Linked DNA regions of Homo sapiens: region 2 is linked to region 1. The links come from fine-mapping of genetic effects on gene expression. A gene starts in region 1. The other region holds a variant in brackets. All regions are shown on one strand. Distances are from middle to middle.

Region 1 (9,137 bases):
CCTCCTTTCTAGCTGTCCTCTGAAATCAGTCCCCAGAGACCTCACACTAACAGTTATGACCAGCCACCTCCCTCAGAAAAATCCTTTGTCCATGGGATGACAGGAGTAGCTTATGGAAATAAAAGTTTCCAAAAACTGTGAAGACCTCGAAGGGGGGGAGAAAAGGCTTACGGTCATGGGTGAGGGTGTGTGTTGAGGAAATTTGCCCCAAAATGCAAATACTTTTTAAGCACCCCTTTCAGATCTAATTTTATATAATAAATGCTTGTTATGGGAAACGATCTAGCATTTTGGAAGGTGCCTATCATGAAACAGACAAAAAAGTACATAAAGTATACTTCATGTAAAGTCAAAGCACAGTAAATATGTGATATGAAGGATTTTTTTCTAATGGCATACTTGTATAGGACACTTACCATGAATGGAGTGTGTAGGCCTGGAAATTGCTCTGGGTGAGCGAGTGGTGAGTAAATGTGAAGGTCTAGGACATTACTGTACACTACTGTAGCTTTATCAACACTGCACAGGGAGGCCACACTACATTTATTTAAAATATTTTTTCTTTCCATAATAAATTAACCTTTGCTTACTGTAACTTTTTACTTTAAAAACTTTTTAATTTTTTTTTAACTTTTGGACCCTTTTGTAATAACATAGCTTAAAACACATATTGCACAGCTGTACAAAAATATTTTCTTTCTTTATATCCTTATTCTATAAGCTTTTTTCTCTTTTTTTACTTTTTAAACTTTTTTATCCAAAACTACAAAATACACACACATTAGCCTAGCCTACACAGGGTCAGGATTATCAGTATCACTGTCCTCCACATCCTGTCCCACTAGAAGGTCTTCAGGGACAGTAACACGCATGGAACTGTCATCTCCCGTAAGAATCCCTTCTTCTGGGATACCTCCAGAAGCACCTGCCTGAGGCTGTTTTACAGTTTTCACTTAAAAAAAAAAAGGCAGGTAGGAGTATATTCTAAAATAACCATTAATAGTAAATACATTAACCAGTGATATATCTATCAAGTTCATTACTATTATCGACTATTATGTACTGTACATAATTGTGTGTGCTAGACTTATACAACTGGCAGCAAAGTAGTTCTGTTTACACCAGCATCACCACGAACACGTAATATGTTGTGCTACCACTGAAATGACAGCTACACTATCACTGGGCTACAGGAATTTTTCAGTTCCATTATAATCTTAAGGGACTGTTATATACGCAGTCTGTCACTAACCAAACTGTCATTATGTGCGCATGACTGTACCTTTTTTGGCTTTCCAATACCTTTTTAAAGATAATTTGCACATAATGAAGTATACTTTAAGTGTACAGTTTGATGTGTTTTGGTCAATACTTGCACCTGTGTAGCCCCCACTCCAATCAAGCTGTCTTGGAACATTTCCATGCCTCCAGAAAGCCCCTCGGTGTCCCTTGACCACTGCATTTCTACCACATGCCTTTTACAAATTCAAACAATGCTGGAAGACAGCTATAGTTATTTCCATTTTGTGGATTTGGATGCCACAGCCCCATCAGGGTCAGTCACTCTCAAGCTGGAGTTGAGTCAGTGACGGGGCCAGTGAAGGACATGGGCAAGTGGTGGCTGGCCCAGAGACCATCACACCTAGTAGATTGAGAGCTATGATACATAAGCTGAGAAAGGCCAGCCTCACCTCCCTTCTTTAAAAAGTACAAAAAGCCCTGAAAATAGTCGCGAGGTAAAGTGTGGCTAAGGGTTTGGAGTTAGACCTGTGCATAAGGCCCCAGCCCTACCACTTAGTAGCTGTGTCCAGGGCCAAAAGCCTCACCTCCCTCACAGGGCTCCCTAGCTCTGAGTAAACACTCCAAACACTCAAATTATGATGATTTGAGAATGCTCCCGAAGTCTCAAACTATCTTCTCTTTGGAAACTGTTTCCAGCTCTAATGGCAGACGGCATGACTAAGAGATAAAGGCAGGAGCCATCCTGATCTAGAATGAGACTACAGATTAGGCAACAAAAGCTCTAAACCTTTTCAGAGCTCACCCTCTCCAAAGGTCAGTCAACCTAATAGTAGGCAAGGCCCTTGGGGGAAAAGTTTTGGCAGCATTCGTGTCCTTGAGCCCAAGTTACAGTGAACTTAGGACACGAGGCAGTGGACCAGAGACCCCCACCATAGCAAACCTCTCTAGGGAGGACTCTCCCCACTGTTGCTACTGGAATCCTGCTTTTTTTTTTTTTTTTGAGACTGAGTTTTGCTCTTATTGCCCAGGCTACAGTACAACGGCACGATCTCAGCTCACCGCAACGTCTGCCTCCCAGGTTCAAGCAATTCTCCTGCCTCACCCTCCCGAGTAGCTGGGATTACAGGCATGCACCACCACACCTGGCTAATTTTATATTGTTAGTAGAGATGGGGTTTCACCATGTTGGTCAGGCTGGTCTCAAACTCCTGACCTCAGGTGATCCTTCTGCCTCGGCATCCCAAAGTGCTCGGATTACAGGTGTGAGCCACCGCGACTGGCTAATTTTGTATTTTTAGTACAGACGGGATTTCTCCACATTGGTCAGGCTGGTCTCGAACTCCCGACCTCAAGTGATCCATCTGCCTCGGCCTCCCAAAGTGCTGAGATTACAGGCATGAACCACCGTGCCTGGCCAGGATCCTGCTTTTTGACTTGTTTCAAAGGTTTGATTTCATTACCAATGAAGCTGGGGAGGTGAAGCAGGAGACAGCAAAATTGGTTACATGAAACAGAGAGGCAATGAATACTTGAGATACTGGCTACGGATCTGATTCAATCAGAAGTTTATTCCAGTTAAATGGTCAGTCTCTCTTCTCTCCATCTCCCCTGAATATAATGTTGCTGATTCTAAACAGTGGCTCTCCAGTTGGTGACAATCGAAATCAGCTGGGAGCTCAAAACTCCTGACACCTAGGTCCTACCATGAAAATTCTGATGTAATTGGTCCGGGATGTGGACTAGGCAACAGAATTTTTAAAACTCCCTCAGGAGATTTTAAAGCCCACCAAGATTAGAGCCCACTATTCTAAAAAGCACTGTACCCCTTATTTAAGCTACCATTAACTCCACGGTCTTGGCCCAGTGAATTCCTGACCTGACACATTAAAAACAAACCAAAACACCATAAACCAAAGCCAGCCCCCACTTCACAGCTTCAGAGCCACAGGGAGGAAGCAACTGTATGCATGCATGAAAATACAAAAATCAGCTGAAGGGGGAAAATCATCGACTGAAAAGGAGGCTCAGGCAAGTACAGTAGGAAAAAACGCACCAAATCCCTGACCCCACGTTTTCTATATGCTTCTCTGTAGAAGTCTTGTGTGCCTGTGTGTGTGTTAAGGAAAACGGGATAGTCTCGGCAAACCTGGATTGCAATCCAGTTCCACCATTTCCTTCGTGAAATTCAAGCAATTTAACCCAAGTCTCAGTTTTCTAACTTGTAAAATGGAGTGTTAAAGCCATAATCTTCAAAACCCTCAGAGAATGAATGTTAAAGCATTTGGCACCTAGTCCTTTGTGTAGTTTCCTTTGGGCGTCTCAAACATTGGGATCAGTGGTTCCCAACCCTGGCTACTAGAATCACCTGCGTGTGCTTAAAAAACATGATGCCAGGCCAGGCACAGTGGCTCACACCCATTATCCCAGCACTTTGGGAGGCTGAGGCGGGAGGATTGCTTGAGCCCAGGAATTCGAGACCAGCCTGAGCAACATAAGACCTAATCTCCACAAAAAAATTAAAAAAAAAAATTAACCGGTCATGGTGGCACACACCTGTAGTCCCAGCTACTCGGGAGACTGCGGTGGGAGGACTGCTTGAGGCAGGGAAGGTGAGGCTTTAGTGAGCCAAGATAATACCAGTGCACTCTCCAGCCTGGGCGACAGAGCAAGACCCTGTCTCCAAAAAACAAAAACAAACTCACACACACCTGTGCTTGCCTGGGCTACACCCCAGATCAATTAATCAGTATCTCAGAGATGCGGAGGGGTGGCTGATCAGTCACTAGTGTTTAAAAAGCTCTTTGGGGGATTCGGATGTGGGACCAGGGCTTACTGCCACCTAGCTAAGGTATTTAACCAGCTTTATCTAAGAGTTGCCAGGGATGTGAGGCAAAGCATCACCTCAGGGGATTCCTACAGCAAAGAAGTTTAAGAAACACTGTATTGAGGCTTGTATAAAACCTTCCCAAACTGAGGGCATTTCTACAACTCAGAAAAGTCTGCTGTTACATTTCAACTAAACTAAGTCACATAATTGCAGCATTTTACATCCAAAATTTGCTTATAAGACAGCTACCGCCAATTGCAACTTCCATCAAATGACATTCTCTCCCTGTGTTTAATACACAAACTCTTGGTCTATTTCTCTCAATGTTCTAGTGAGAAAGATGTTTATCATCAACCCCACTTTTTTGGGGAGAAAACTAGGAATCACACCTATAAGAGCCCTCTGACTCCCAACTCCTTTGCCCCTTTCATTACACAGTCCAAATCAAGAAATCATTAGTCTAATCCCTTGCAGGGCTTGTTAAAACCGATAGATGGGCTCCACCCCAAGAATGTCTGATTCAGTAGTCTCTGACAGGGCTTGAAATTTCAGCCATTTTGAATAAGTTACCAGGTGTTGCTGCTGGTGGGACCAGAGTTTGAGAACCACTGGTTTATGCTGCCTTCTTCCCATCCGCTGGTCCTTATTTTGCACAAAATGGAGCGGACTAGTCAACGTCAGCTACAGGATAACTGACTTTTCTTCAGCAGCGTCACTGGGACTGATTTTCCCTTAAGACTGCACTTTCCAGGGACGTGACAAACAAGCAAGCAAGTAGAAAGAAGATCTGGGCCAATCTTTGGTCATCTCTACCCAGGGACAATGAGCTACTCAGGGAACAGACCCTTGAGGATCCCAAGCAGACAAACCCCACAGCTGAGAGACAGATCTTGAAACATCCTCCGCTCCTTAGGCGTGGTCACCTCTGGCCTCAATGGAAGTTACAGATAGGTACCCAGGCGCCAGCTGAGGCACTGAACTCCGTGGCGCAGGTATCCTAACCTCAGGCCCCTGGCATCTCTCCCCAGGATTCCAAGCACTGAACGCACATCAGCCTGCTGGGCTCTCTCGATTTCTTTCCCTCACTGGGCCGTGTGTTCAGACGCACCTGGGAGCCCCTTCCCCACTTCCTGGAAACTCAGCGACTCCAGCCACAACCTCCAAAACGCCAAACGCTCCGCCCCAAGGAATCCTACCTCACCTTCTCATAACCTGCCCATTCATTCTCCTTCATAATCCTCCAAATCCTCATTTTCCACCCCCAAATGTCCGTTTTCAATTGATATCTCTTTGTTCTCCTCGCAATCACCAACTCCCATCTCCAACCAGCACTCAGGACTCACTTGGAGACACCCCTTCCTCACGCACACACGTATCTACTCCGCAAGCCCAAATGTGCTTCCCGGATTCCTAACCGCCAGGGAGCCTCCCTACCACCACCCCCGCCCCTAATTCTCCACCCAAAGCCCTTCCCCCACCCCGGGCCTTTCCCCTAACCAATCCCCCAAATGCCTCTCCACTATCGTGACTGCCCCTCATCACACCCCCTCCTCTCGGTCCCTTCTTATACTCTGCTGCTGCCCAGCTCCCTCGGCCGCCCTCAACCCCTAGTCCATGGGCACCGCCCTCCCTACCATGAAAAGTCGGAGGACGCAGGAGTCTCCAAACCCGGACTGAGAGAGGCAGGAAACACCCAGCTCACGCCAGCCGGGGGCGGAGGCGGGGCCGGAGCGATAACTTCCGCTGTCCGCACCCCACTTCCGCCCCGCAGAGGGCAACGTCTTAAGCCGTCCGTTGTGCGCCTAGGGGCCAGTTTTCTTTCCAGCCTCCCCGGCCGGAGTGGGTTCCAGCTTTTCTCGGCTGGGGAGGGCATTTATCCCACCTCCGCTATTTCAGCTGCCAGAGGGGAGGCAAGGTGTGGGGAAGTTTTCCTTCCCGGGCGAAGAAGCTCTGCGGAACTGTCATTTTCCGGAACTGGATGCTTGCTTCCTGGCGGGGTTCTGAAAGCGAACACCGCGGGGCAAGATGGCGGTAGTGCGTCGGCTGCTGCCCCGGGTCTGGCAGAACTCGGGTGTTTTGGGCTGAGACAGTGGCAGCTGCGGCCCCGACCCCAAGTGCGGGGACCTCCGGCGAATAAAGGTCGGCCTGCGGGTAGGCCGGTAGGGCCTGCGGTCCGGCCTGCGGGAGAACTGGGTCGTCAGTCCTCCGAGTGGTGGGGCTGGGGACTTTGAGGGAGTTGGCTCTAGGGCACAGTCCCTGCCTGGCCAGGTCGGAGGAACAAGTGCTGGGATCTGGCGTGTGTGCTCCAGGGGCTCTTTCCGCGGCCCTTTCCACCTCTTTTCACTTTGGGGACGGTAGGCCTTTATAAACGGACTAATGCTGGGTGATTTGTTCCTGTGGTTGTTGATGCCGAGGAAAGACTCTGGGCCCCAGGACTCACCTAAACTGGAGTTCGAATACTGTTCGCTCGCTGTGTGACCTTGGGTGAGTTCCCTCACCTCTCTGAGCCTCAGTTTCCTTCTGTGTAAATGGAGTAATTAGCAGGTTTCACAGAGGGTGTGAATACGTTTTAGTACCGTGCCTGACACCTAGTTCTGAATAAAGAAAAACTTGATCGTAATTTAACTCCAGCTTAGCCCCCACAGGCAATCTTGCACTCTCAACTTCTCTTTGCTTGGCCATTCTGTGAACGGGGGAGCCCTGGATCTTGTTTGTTTTACTTAGTGATAAATAACTGTTTTGGATATACATGGATTCAGATTCAAAAGCATCCACCTTAGATAGGCTGTAGCTTTCAATAAATAGTAGCTGTTAATATGAATAGTCTCTTTAAGTCGTGTTTCCTATTCTTTAAATAAAAATTAGATTATTGAGGCTGGCCACGGTGGCTCACGCCTGTAATCCTAGCACTTTGGGAGGCCGAGGCGGGCGGATCACCTGAGGTCAGAAGTTCAAGACCAGCGTGGCCAACATGGTGAAACCGCATCTCTACTAAAAATACAAAAATTAGCCGGGCGTGGTGGCGGGCGCCTTTAATCCCAGCGACTTGGGAGGCTGAAGCAGGAGAATCACTTGAACCTGGGAGGCGGAGGTTGCAGTGAGCAGAGTTCGCGCCGCTGCACTCCAGCCTGGGCAACAAAGTGAGACTCCGTCTCAAAAAAACAAAGATTATCGAGAACTGATAGAGCTGTTGAAAAGACAAGTTGGTTAAATAATCTGTGCAGTGTCTGATACACCGTCTGCCCAGAACAAGTGGTGGTGGTCATTAAACCTGGTGGCCCAGCTTTTCCTACTGCACAGGGACAATCCTCTTGGCTTAGTCAGCAGTTGGTATTTATGATGCTTCAGCTTTGGAAATATAGAGGTAAGACAAGAGTCTGAATCCTGCCTCTTAGTTATTACAGCCTTGACTCTGCCACATACTAATGGTCTAGACTGGAGTAGATGAGATCATGAATGATCTTCTCATAGGACTCCTCTCCTTATTAGATGAGATCACTTATAAAGGACTTGACACATAATGGGCACTCATTTACTTTTTTAAATGATCTTGGTTATCACCAACCTCTTATTTTCTAATCTTTCTACCTATATGATTCTTGTTTCCCTAACTAGATTGCAAGCTTCTTAAGGACAATACAATAAAGCTCACTTACATGCTACATGCTTTTAGATATCCTATATTAATATTTTCCCATTTAATCCTAATCACAATGTTGTGATGACTAAATTGAGGTACAAGAAGGATAAATGTTGCATTTAATCCTTTCAGCAACCCTAGGACATAGACACTATTATTACCCTCGATTTACACATAAGGAAACTGAGGCCTAGAGAGGATAAGTAACTTGGCCAAATGTCGGATAGAAGGAGTACTAAAAAGAACCAAGGCCCGCTTTCTCTGATGCAAGACTTTTTCTGCTGCGCACAGCCTTTTCTTTGGTTCTCCATGGCATTTAGCAAAATAAGTACTTAATAAACACTTGATTGTGTGTTTTATTAATTGACGAACTATAGTATACACTGTGCAGGTGGAGAAGGTATATAGGAAAGGATGAGAAAAACTGTAAAGTGTAGGCTATTATATGATATGAACAGAAATCAACCAATAACATTGCTGAAGGGATAATAATCTCAAGGAAGGGGATAAGAGTAATTTCTTATTCTGGGAGGGCCCCTGGGAGAAGTGAAAGTTTTAAGATCGTCTTACAGTGCTTAGGTACAGTTTGCATGCAACTTTGTTTTTCTTTTGGGAAGAGGCTCCCTCTTCCCCTTCTAATTCCATGGACCCTCTGCCATTGAGGCACTGTCTGCATGTCATGGAGGGAGCATATCATTGTGCTTGTGGCTTGGGCCCTGCTCTTTTGCAGTCCTGAGGAGCTTGAATCTGTTACTCACTCTAAACAACAGGGCCAGGAGTTCATAGCCCAAGGGACAGGACTGGTGAATCTTAGTGCATTTAAGATAGGAAAAAAGTTAATGGGTGAGAAATGTCAGACTGCCAGCATTATTTCCTACCCAGAGAACCTTAGTAACTGTCCAGGTGGGAGCCTCTGCTGAAGAGTTTTTTTTTTTTTTTAATCCTTGTGTCTATAAAAATAATACACCAGTTAGACTTCCTGACTATACACTCTACAATGTGCACTCAAGTACCTCCATAGGTACCTGATAAGCATCATCACATTTAGTCCTCATTATCAACCTCTAAGCCAATTAATAGATGAAGATGGAAAGACTCAGGGCCCAGTGTGGTGGCTCATACCTGTAATCCTAACATTTTGGGAGGCCAAGGCAGGAGGATCTCTTGAGCCCAGGAGTTTGAGACCACCAACCTGGGCAATATAGCGAGACCCCACCTCTACAAAAAATTTAAAAACTAGCCAGATGTGGTGGTATGTACCTGTGGTCCCAGCTACTTGAGAAGCTGAGGTGGGAGAATCGCTTGAGCCTGGGAGGTAGAAGCTGCAATGAACCATGATTGCACCACTGCACTCCAGCTTGGATGACAGAGCGAGACCCTGCCTTAAAAAAAAAAAAAAGACTTAGACATTCTCCCTATAGTATGTGG
Region 2 (9,137 bases), 26 kb before region 1:
AACTATCCATAACTTCCCCCCACGTGGAAATCAATGCGCTTGTGTCCCACCCAGATACTGAGACTTAATTGGTTGGAGGTGCGGCTTAGGCTTCAGGATGCAAGAAAATATAAACGTAAGAAAAATATGTAAGAAAGAAATGTGTAAAAAATATGTAAGAAAATATAAAGTTGCTTTTTGGAATACATGTGTCAAAGGCTGCCCATGTTAATACCTTTGGTATAAAATGGATCTAACAAGCACAGAGGTTTGGGAACCATGGCTACGTTAGGGAGAAGTCTAGCCTGAGCACACAAGTACGCTGCCTTCCCTGACTGTGCCCATGCTGGGCTGAGGGTCCCAGTGGTCCTCGCTGGCTGCTAGTACACGGAGCTTGTTTTGATCCAGTTTTGCTGAAAACGACATGTTAAAAGCAGAGGGAGCTGAATCTTTAAAATGTATCTTGTATTATAGGAAGAATTTTGATACAAATTAATTAAAAAATGGTCTGTGAACATGGAGTGTCTCATACACATTTAAATTTAAGTGGATTTACCTATAAAGTCATTTTGCAGGCCCGGCGCGGTGGCTCACGCCTATAATCCCAGCACTTTGGGAGGCCGAGATGGGCAGATCACCTGAGGTCAGGAGTTCGAGACCAGTCTGGCCAACATGGTGAACTCCGTCTCTACTAAAAATACAAAAATTAGTTGAGCATGGTGGCACATGCCTATAGTTCCAGATACTCAGGGAGGCTGAGGCAGGAGAATTGCTTGAACACAGGAGGCGGAGGTTGCAGTGAGCTGAGATCGCACCACTACACTCCAGCCTGGGCGATAGAGTGAGACTCCATCTCAAAAAAATAAAATCATTTTGTAGATATAAAATAATTGCCCCTAGACACAATGAACTCCTTTGGGGACAAGTTAAAATAAGGATCATTTTGGATGTAGACTATAAGGTGTCTTTTTAGTTTACACACTGTCTTAAAAGTGACACCCCAGAGACTGTGTCTCTCTCCTCTGGAGTCACACGGAGTCCATCTTCCTCCCTGACTGGTTCTGGCTGAAGAGGCTGACAGGCCTCGATGAGCCAGTTTCTAAGTCTGGCTTGTCTCATGGGAGGTGGCACTGGCTTCTCACAGGCCCTCCACACCCACCTTGCTAATGGTGACAGTTGAGGTGATAACTGTTTCCTTTTGCGCAAAGGGAGCGGGGAAGGGCTGTAAACCGAAGTGTGACTCTCTCCCAGGTGTCAGTCCGGAGGAAGTCCTGATAGAGGATGACGTCTGACCTCTACCATCGCCATTTTTGCTCCAACTGAGGAAACTACAGGGGAAGTGGGGATTGGATCCAGTTAGCTACCTCTTCAAGGTACCAGGCCCGCAGCACTAACAGATCACATCTGAAGAAACTGAGGGGCGTTAGGCCAAAGCCTAATCCCAGCTCCTCAGCTGCCCCATGGCACCTTATTTAAAATGTCACCTTCTGGAAGCAGACCCCAGGTCACCCGAAGGCGCAATTCTAAACACCCTCGACAGGATCTATGTTCAGTGCGCAGTCCAACGTGTCATTAGAGGGTGGGCAAGATTCTCTACCTCTGTCAAGCTGCCCTGAGACATGATGAAATACTGTGTACAGCAAGTTCTCAAATAACATTTCGTTATATGTTGATAAGACATCTGATTCCTGGGCAGGGCCACTGTCTGGGTGGAGTCTGTATGTTCTCCCCATGTCTCTGGGTTTCTTCTGGGTGCTCTGGTTTCCTCCCACGTCCCCAAGGTGTGTGTGTCAGGTGCACTGGCGTGTCTATGCGGTCCCAGTCTGAGTGAGTGTGGGTGCGTGAGCCCCGTGAGAGGAGGACATCCTGTCCAGGGTGGGTCCCGCCTTCTGCCCTGAGCTGCTGGGATTGGGCTCTGGCCATCTGCAACCCTGAACGTGCAGGTTGGAGAACGAATGAATACAAATTTTATTGTAAAATAAAAATGTATATAAAGCATATGAGCACACAAATGGACAATAAATGCCACAGCGCAAAAGCGTGTAGCGAGCCTGCCACGCTTGTGACTGGGGAGGGGCTCCGTATAATCTCACCTTTGCAAGCGTTTATTTACTGATGTATGCGGCCACCACTGTGACCACCATCACTTACCGATTCACCAAAACTTAGGTAATATGGTCTTATTTTTGATTTAATTAAATATACGTGTAGCTCATGTATTTCACAGTTTAATATGAGAAGTGCTTTGGTCTTTATTTAGAAATTGGGTGATGTTTTTGTGCCCAGCAACATGCTGTAGGAATTTAACTCTTGTTTACATCCATTAGCCTCATGGTTTTGCTTCAAGTCTCAGCTTCCAAGAACCTATCGATGACTTACTGTGCATGGTCTGAGACTAAGTAAAGGAAATTTCCTAAAGCTGTGAAATTTGAATTTTGCTTTAAATAAATGGAACTCACATGTGTCAAGGGATTGGGTTTGGTGAACTGAAGCCCTCTGCCCCATAATAGCAAATCAGTGGTAACACCAGCTGATTCACTTTTTCATGAGCCAGGCAGCCTTTGACCCCAAGACTTCCTTTTGGTGTTTGAATTCAAACAAACACTACAGAAACATGACTGTCTTTTCCCTTCCACCTGGAGCGACTTTAAGGGGCTGAGGCAGAACGTGGGGGCCCTGCCTTTGTTGTAAACCGATTTTAGGGGCCTGGTTATGCCGGGCATGCCTGAAAAGAGCCAGAAAACAGAAGCATTTTATGACTTTTATTTTACATGTCGCCAACGTTTGTACAACATACAGTGGCTACATCTAAAACTTTGAGCATTTTTTTATGGCGCAAAGAGACAGAAAGGTTAATGACACACTTAACTGTTACAGTGACTTTGGGTAGGGCCCTAAAGACAGCACACGCTCCAGAGGGCGGGCTGAGTGTTGTTCACACTTGGGTCCTGAATCGCTGTTGTAAGGTACAGAGACACACTTTAACTGGGGAATGGGGTCCCCACACAGTGATCGCCCCACGGGAGGGTGACAGAATATGCCAGGAATTGTCTTGGACATGGGCCCCAGTCACCACAATCAGATGGCTTATTTGAAACAAACAAACAAAAAAAACCCTTGATTACGACACACCAAAGCTGTTCCAATTTGTAAAAAACTGTAGTTATTACATTGCAATGAAATCTCTTTACCAAATCTTGGGCCAGTGTTTTACCTGGATAGTGCTTACATTATAAATATTGGTTTTTGCCCTTAGTGCTAACATAAGAAAAATCAGTTCCTTGTATACTCAATAACAGAGCTTGGACCAGCCAATGCTGTCTATTCACTCATGGCTATAATGCAGCCGACAGAATTGTTCACCATGGAATGTTTTATAAACCTGTTCATATTCCAGAGAGACAAAGACTCAAAACTACAAGTGCAAAGTTGGGTAGAGAGAGCTGCCAGAAACACTAGCTCATTAGGCATAGAGGCCACAGCAAATCAAATTGTTCCACAAACTCATTCTTCACACAAACATTTAAAACACTATGCAGCCAGGTGTGGTGACTCACACCTGTAATCCCAGCACTTTGGGAGGCCAAGGTGGTCGGATCACAGGGTCAGGAGTTCAAGACCAGCCTGGCCAACATGGTGAAACCCCATCTCTACTAAAAATACAAAATTAGCTGGGCATGGGCTGATGGGTACCTGCAATCCCAGCTACTCGGGAGGCTGAGGCAGCAGAATCGCTTGAACCCAGGAGGCACAAGTTGTGGTAAGTGGAGATGGTGCCACTACACTCCAGCCTGGCCAATAGAGCAAGACTCCGCCTCAAAAAAAAATTTATACAATGGCTTTTCCATTTTCCTGGCCAACATTCACTTCGACTTTCTAAAAAAGCTCAACCCAAAAGAAAGACAGGGTTGGTGTTTAACACTTAAACAGTATAAAATATTTACGAAACATTTTGTAAGCCCTCTTTCCTTAGCACTTAATAAAATCCAAATGGCCTAATATAAAAGTTTCTCACACGACAGTTTAAAAAGCATCTGCCCAATACACGATTTTGACATTCAGTCATGATTGTTTTAAAGTTTTATTGTAGACTTTGCTGTTGGATACAAAATGAAGGCATACAACTGTCACAGGCAGGGCAGTAAGTACAAAGTCTAAGCTGTAAAAACCGTTTGAAAATATAAACTCGTTTTTGGAATACATGTGTCAAAGGCTGCCCATGTTAATACCTTTGGTATAAAACGGTAACGATTCCCTTGACAAACCCATCCATCACCTGACGCACATTCACATCTCCTGGTAACTACTCTACCTAGTCTAGTCTCAACCACCCCTGTCAGTCACGACTCACTCCTGTTCCTTTGCAGGTGCAGAGGAGCCTGGGAGGTAGGTCACTGAGAACACCCGTCCTACATAGGCGCTGCGCCCAGCCGGGCTCCAGCAGGGGCCGCCACCTGTGCCCCACAAGCACACGTCCCCACCCACAGTCACACATATCCCTTAAACAAACATGAACACAGACACAAACCAGACCCAAAGTTATCTATCTACCCGCACATCCTCAACCTGTTCACTGCTGGCCACTCTACACTGTGTAAAAATCAGAGGCAAAGACAAGGGGGTCTGTGTTTATAGCAGGGAAGCTCCCTGGGGCTGGTGGTGTGAGGGTGTCCCTGCCTGGATGCCAGGCTGGGAGGACAAAGGGTATGGGCCACACTGAATTTCTAAGCAAAATGACTTAGAAAGTTAGCCCAGCTTCATGGGGAAGG[A/G]GGCTGAAGAGGAGCGGGATCCCAGGGAGGGGTAGTTTATGAGCTATGCCTGTCACAGGGTCAGATGGCCTTCCTGGAGTGGAGTCGGGTCAATCAGGAGAACAACTGGACGGGGCTGGAGTTGGGGAAAGAACCAGAAACAGAGCTGGACACTTACTGCCATGGAAAGTTCTGCTCCTACGCAGACATATGGGGTCCCAGTGAGCACCAGGCCAAAGACCAGCCCAAGGTGGCAAAAGGCTTGATCCCTAAACAAAGCCTTGCACCCAAAGTTGCACTGGTCTCAACGATTTAGACGCTCATTCAGCCATATTTCCACTGCCACAAGCTGCAATTATCAACAAGCTCTAGGCCCAAAGCCACATGGCAGAAAGCACGTCTAGCAAAGCAGTGGGGATTGTGCCCGGGCCAAACACACAGGAACCAGGAGTGGACCTGCTGGGGCTGGAGGATTATGAAATAGGAAGCAGGGAGCTCAGATACCTCTGGTGGCCTCCAACTGCAGGACAACTCTCAGAATTGTCAAACTGAACCCTTAAGGGAGTGTCACCCAAAAAGCCCACATAGGAAGTCGACACCCACAAAAATAAATATTGCAAACAAAAGTTCTCACATACACTTCACACTCATTCATACTTTTCCTCTGAGAACCGAGAAAGCCTGGCTCCAAAGAGTCTCAGATTCTCATGAAAAGTAGAGATCTTAGACACAGCTTGTTCAACGACAGGGGTCATACGCCTGGGTCAAGACAATCAATTTGCCTTGTCAAGCAATACCAAAATAATCATCTGGCTTGTTACAAAAGTATCTCCAGGCTCCAAGGGAAGCAGAAGGGGCCCGGCAGCCTGCACAGGATCTGGGTGTAGCACGGCAGGGAGTGGGGGCGGTGAGAGGAGGGCGGCTCGGTCTCTTGCCTGCTCACTGGTGGAGGTGGGCCCGGTCATCAGGGCGCTTGATGTGGATCCTCCGCACGCGCTCGATCCGCTCCCGCTCCTCGTCCTCGTCCAGGTGGTGGGAGCGCCCCGCCGCCCCGCCTGTGGCCTCCAGGAGCGCATTGTCAGGTCCCCGGCCATCCTGGGCCTCATACAGCAAAATGTTCAGGGTCTCCTCATAAATCCGGGCTTCGGGAAACTCCACCTGTGTTCCCACAGTATACAGGGCAGGTAAGTTATGGCCCACCCCCTCTGCCAACACCTGGACTTTAAGCAGGGCCGCCAGGCTAAATCAGGCCCCTGGGATTCTGCTGAAGGCCACCAGTATTATTTTTAAATAAACTGATATTTTCAATGGCAACACTTACATGTGGTGCTAAATGCACAGAAAATCAAGGGGATGCAGAGAAACAGGTCTCCCTGCCCCTAGTTTCCCTTCTTAAAGGTACAGTTTCTCATCATTTTACCCTCTCAAAGATTCTGTGCATGTAAATATGTGTAATACACATATTTATTCACACACTTCAAAAAACACACAAGGTGGCCCACCACACAGAGTTGTACATGTCTTCCTCTTGTGCCTAACTTAACCTAGAGATCATTCTGTATCAAGGAATTATAAATACGACAATGCAATTAACCATACTTGGATGGCCATTTAGGTCAGTGCTAATATGCTTCTCCTAACAGAGCTGCAACCTTGCACAGAAGTCCTTCCACACCTTAAAGCAGTCTCTAAAGCAGTTTTTTGTACAGGGTCCAGCTGGGGACTCCCACGAAATGGGCATGAGCCCTTCTGCTGTTTGGCAAATCATTGTGTTTGCTCATTGCCCTTCAGGGTTAAGGTGTGATGAACAGGAAGAGGGCCACATAAGCAGGTCCCACACATTTGATCAGACTAGACTCCACTTTCAGGGTGGAATTCGGAGGTTCTGGGAAAAATGGAGCAGGCACACTCTACCCCGTCTTCCTCACTGACACTACAAAGCCAGAATGGGATGCACACAGCAGCTAACTGTGGACTCAGAAGTAAATCATGGCAGGCAGATGGGGGAAACAACAGAATTTGGAGTAATGCCCAACAGTGAGTTTACTGTTTGCTGCTGCCAGCACTGATGCAGCCTGAAACCCTGAAATGGCACCAGGACAGAAGACCTCCAGAAGGTCTCTAGTGGCCAGGGAGGCCAACAGAGTCTAACAGGCAGAGAGGCTGGGAGGAAATCCTGGTTTTCTTTCCTTTTTTTTTAAAAGATATGGGATCTGGCTAATTAAGCTTTAAAATTTTAAGACTTCTCATTTTTAGAGCTTAATAAGGAGCAAGGGGATTTAGAGACCACATGGTCTGATCCCAACTGTTTCTTGATTCACAGACCAGGTTCAGGAGTGGCGTGTTCTTGTGTTTGTGAAGCTGGTTAGGGGCAGAGCCAGGACGGGAGTCCAAGGGCCTCTTTCTTTTCTCTTTTTTGTTTTGAGAGGGAGTGTTGCTCTGTCACCCAGGCTGGAGTGCAGTGGCACAATCATAGCTCACTGCAGCCTTGAACGCCTAGGCTCAAATGATTCTCCCACCTCAGCCTCCCCAAGTAGTTGAGACTATAGGCATGCATCACCATGCCCAACTAACTTTTTGTAGAGATGAGTGTGTTGCTATGTTGCCCAGGCTGGTCTTGAACTACTGGGCTTAAATGATTCTCCCACCTCAGCCTCCCAAGTAGTTTAGACTACAGGCACACACCACCATGCCCAGCTATTTTTTAAAAAATTTTTGGTAGAGACAGGGGTGTTGCTATGTTGCCCAGGCTGGTCTTAAACTCCTGGACTCAAGCAATCCTTCTGCTTTGGCCTCCCAAAGTGCGGGATTACAGGTGTGAGCCACCATGCTCAGTCCTTTTCTTTATTTTCTTGCACCCAGACCTGAGCATTCCTGTGGCAGCAACCAGAGACTGCAGGAGTCAAAACTCTGAGGGAAGGAACCTTCTTTTCTGATGAGAAGAGCTGTGGTCTCAGCAGGATTGGGAGAATCTGGTTGCTTTTTCTATCTTCATGCTCCTGGGCCCAAAATACAGGCATGGTTACAGAAAGTGGGTGGCAAAGGGGGAATAACCAAACCCCCAGCTTTCTGGCTGGCCGATCAGAGAAGGGGACTCCAGGGAAGCTTAGAGAACTGCGGAGAAGAGGAGCTTGAGAAAGCAGCCTGTGAAGTTGTATATGAACTCCTAGACCCACACCCAGCTGCAAGATCTACCCCTAAACTGCATACGCAGACTGAAAGAACTGAATGCTGCAAGAGATACTGCCCAGGACAGACGGGCCACAGCATGGCACACAGCTAGGACAGATTTGAAGGCTTTGAAAATCAAACTGTCACCGCAACTACAAACTACAGAAGGCTGGTTAGAGCTTGCAGCCTGAGCCCAACTGGGTCAATTGCCTGCTAAAACAAAAACATCAATGTTCTCCCTAGGATTTAAACAAGGCCTGGAGTCCTTTAACAATATTCAAAATGTTTAGGATACAATCAAAATTTCTCAATACACAAGAACCAAGAAATTCTCAACTCCTGTGGGAAATAACTCACAGATGCTAGCGCCAAGGTGACACAAGGTTTTGGAATTACCTGACAAAGACCTGGCAGCAGCTATTATTAACCTGTTCCAGTAAGTAAGGGCCAATGCTCTTAGAGCAAATGGAAACATAGGGAGTCTCAGCAAGGAGACAGAAAAACCAAATGAGCACTTGAGAACTGACAAATACAATAACCAACAACCTCAAACAAAAACACAACTTACCAGCAGGGCTCAATAACAGAGTGGAGATGAGACAGGAGAGGAGAGTGATATGGGCTGGGTGCAGTGGCTCATGCCTGTAATCCCAACACTTTGGGAGGCCAAGGTAGAAGGACCACTTGAGGCCAGGAGGTCGAGACCAGCCTGGGCAACATAGTGAAAGCCAGTCCCTACAAAAATAAATAAAATGAGCCAGGTGTAGTAGCATGCACCTGTGGACCCAGCTACTCAGGAGGCTGAGGCAGGAGGATCACTTGAGCCCAGGAGTTCAAGGCTGCATTGAGCTATGATTGTGTCACTGTACTCAAGCCTGGGTGACAGAGCAACACTCTCTCTCAAAACAAAGAGAAAAGAAAGAGGCCCTTGGCTTCCCATCCTGGCTCTGCCACTAACTAGCTTTACAAACACAAGAACATGCCACTCCTGAACCTGTCTGCTAATCTAGAAACAGTTGGGATCAGACCATGTGGTCTCTAAATCCCCTTGTTCCTTATTAAGCTCTAAAAATGAGAAGTCTTAATCTTTTAAAGCTTAATCAATATGGTGACTCTCCTCTTACTACCCAAGGGCAGAGGCAGCCCAGGTATATTTTTAAAAAATCAAACCATGACAGAATGGGGGTCTAATTACAGGAAGAATTCACAGCCCTGAAAAAAAAAAAACAGTTCACAGGA

Evidence for each region. PIP is the estimated chance that this variant, and not a neighbour inherited with it, causes the effect.
Region 2: its variant is fine-mapped to the expression of KCTD10 in lung (TOPMed, PIP above 0.99). The same link has a PIP of 0.9 or more in fibroblasts, subcutaneous fat, tibial artery and tibial nerve.

Annotation. Positions count from the first base shown.
Region 1 is chr12:109,471,557-109,480,693 of GRCh38, forward strand. KCTD10 (potassium channel tetramerization domain containing 10) reads right to left here and starts at 5,744. Exons shown (of 7, transcript NM_031954.5): 1 at 5,704-5,744. The coding sequence starts at 5,706. UBE3B (ubiquitin protein ligase E3B) reads left to right here and starts at 6,078. Exons shown (of 28, transcript NM_130466.4): 1 at 6,078-6,553. RefSeq lists enhancers at 4,657-5,392, 5,901-5,990.
Region 2 is chr12:109,445,929-109,455,065 of GRCh38, forward strand. It overlaps MYO1H (myosin IH), which reads left to right. Exons shown (of 32, transcript NM_001101421.4): 32 at 1,231-2,451. The coding sequence ends at 1,254. It overlaps KCTD10 (potassium channel tetramerization domain containing 10), which reads right to left. Exons shown (of 7, transcript NM_031954.5): 7 at 2,727-5,885. The coding sequence ends at 5,667. Among named protein-coding and RNA genes, the nearest start is that of KCTD10, 27 kb to the right of the region's middle. The variant A/G (reference allele first, on the strand shown) is at 4,749.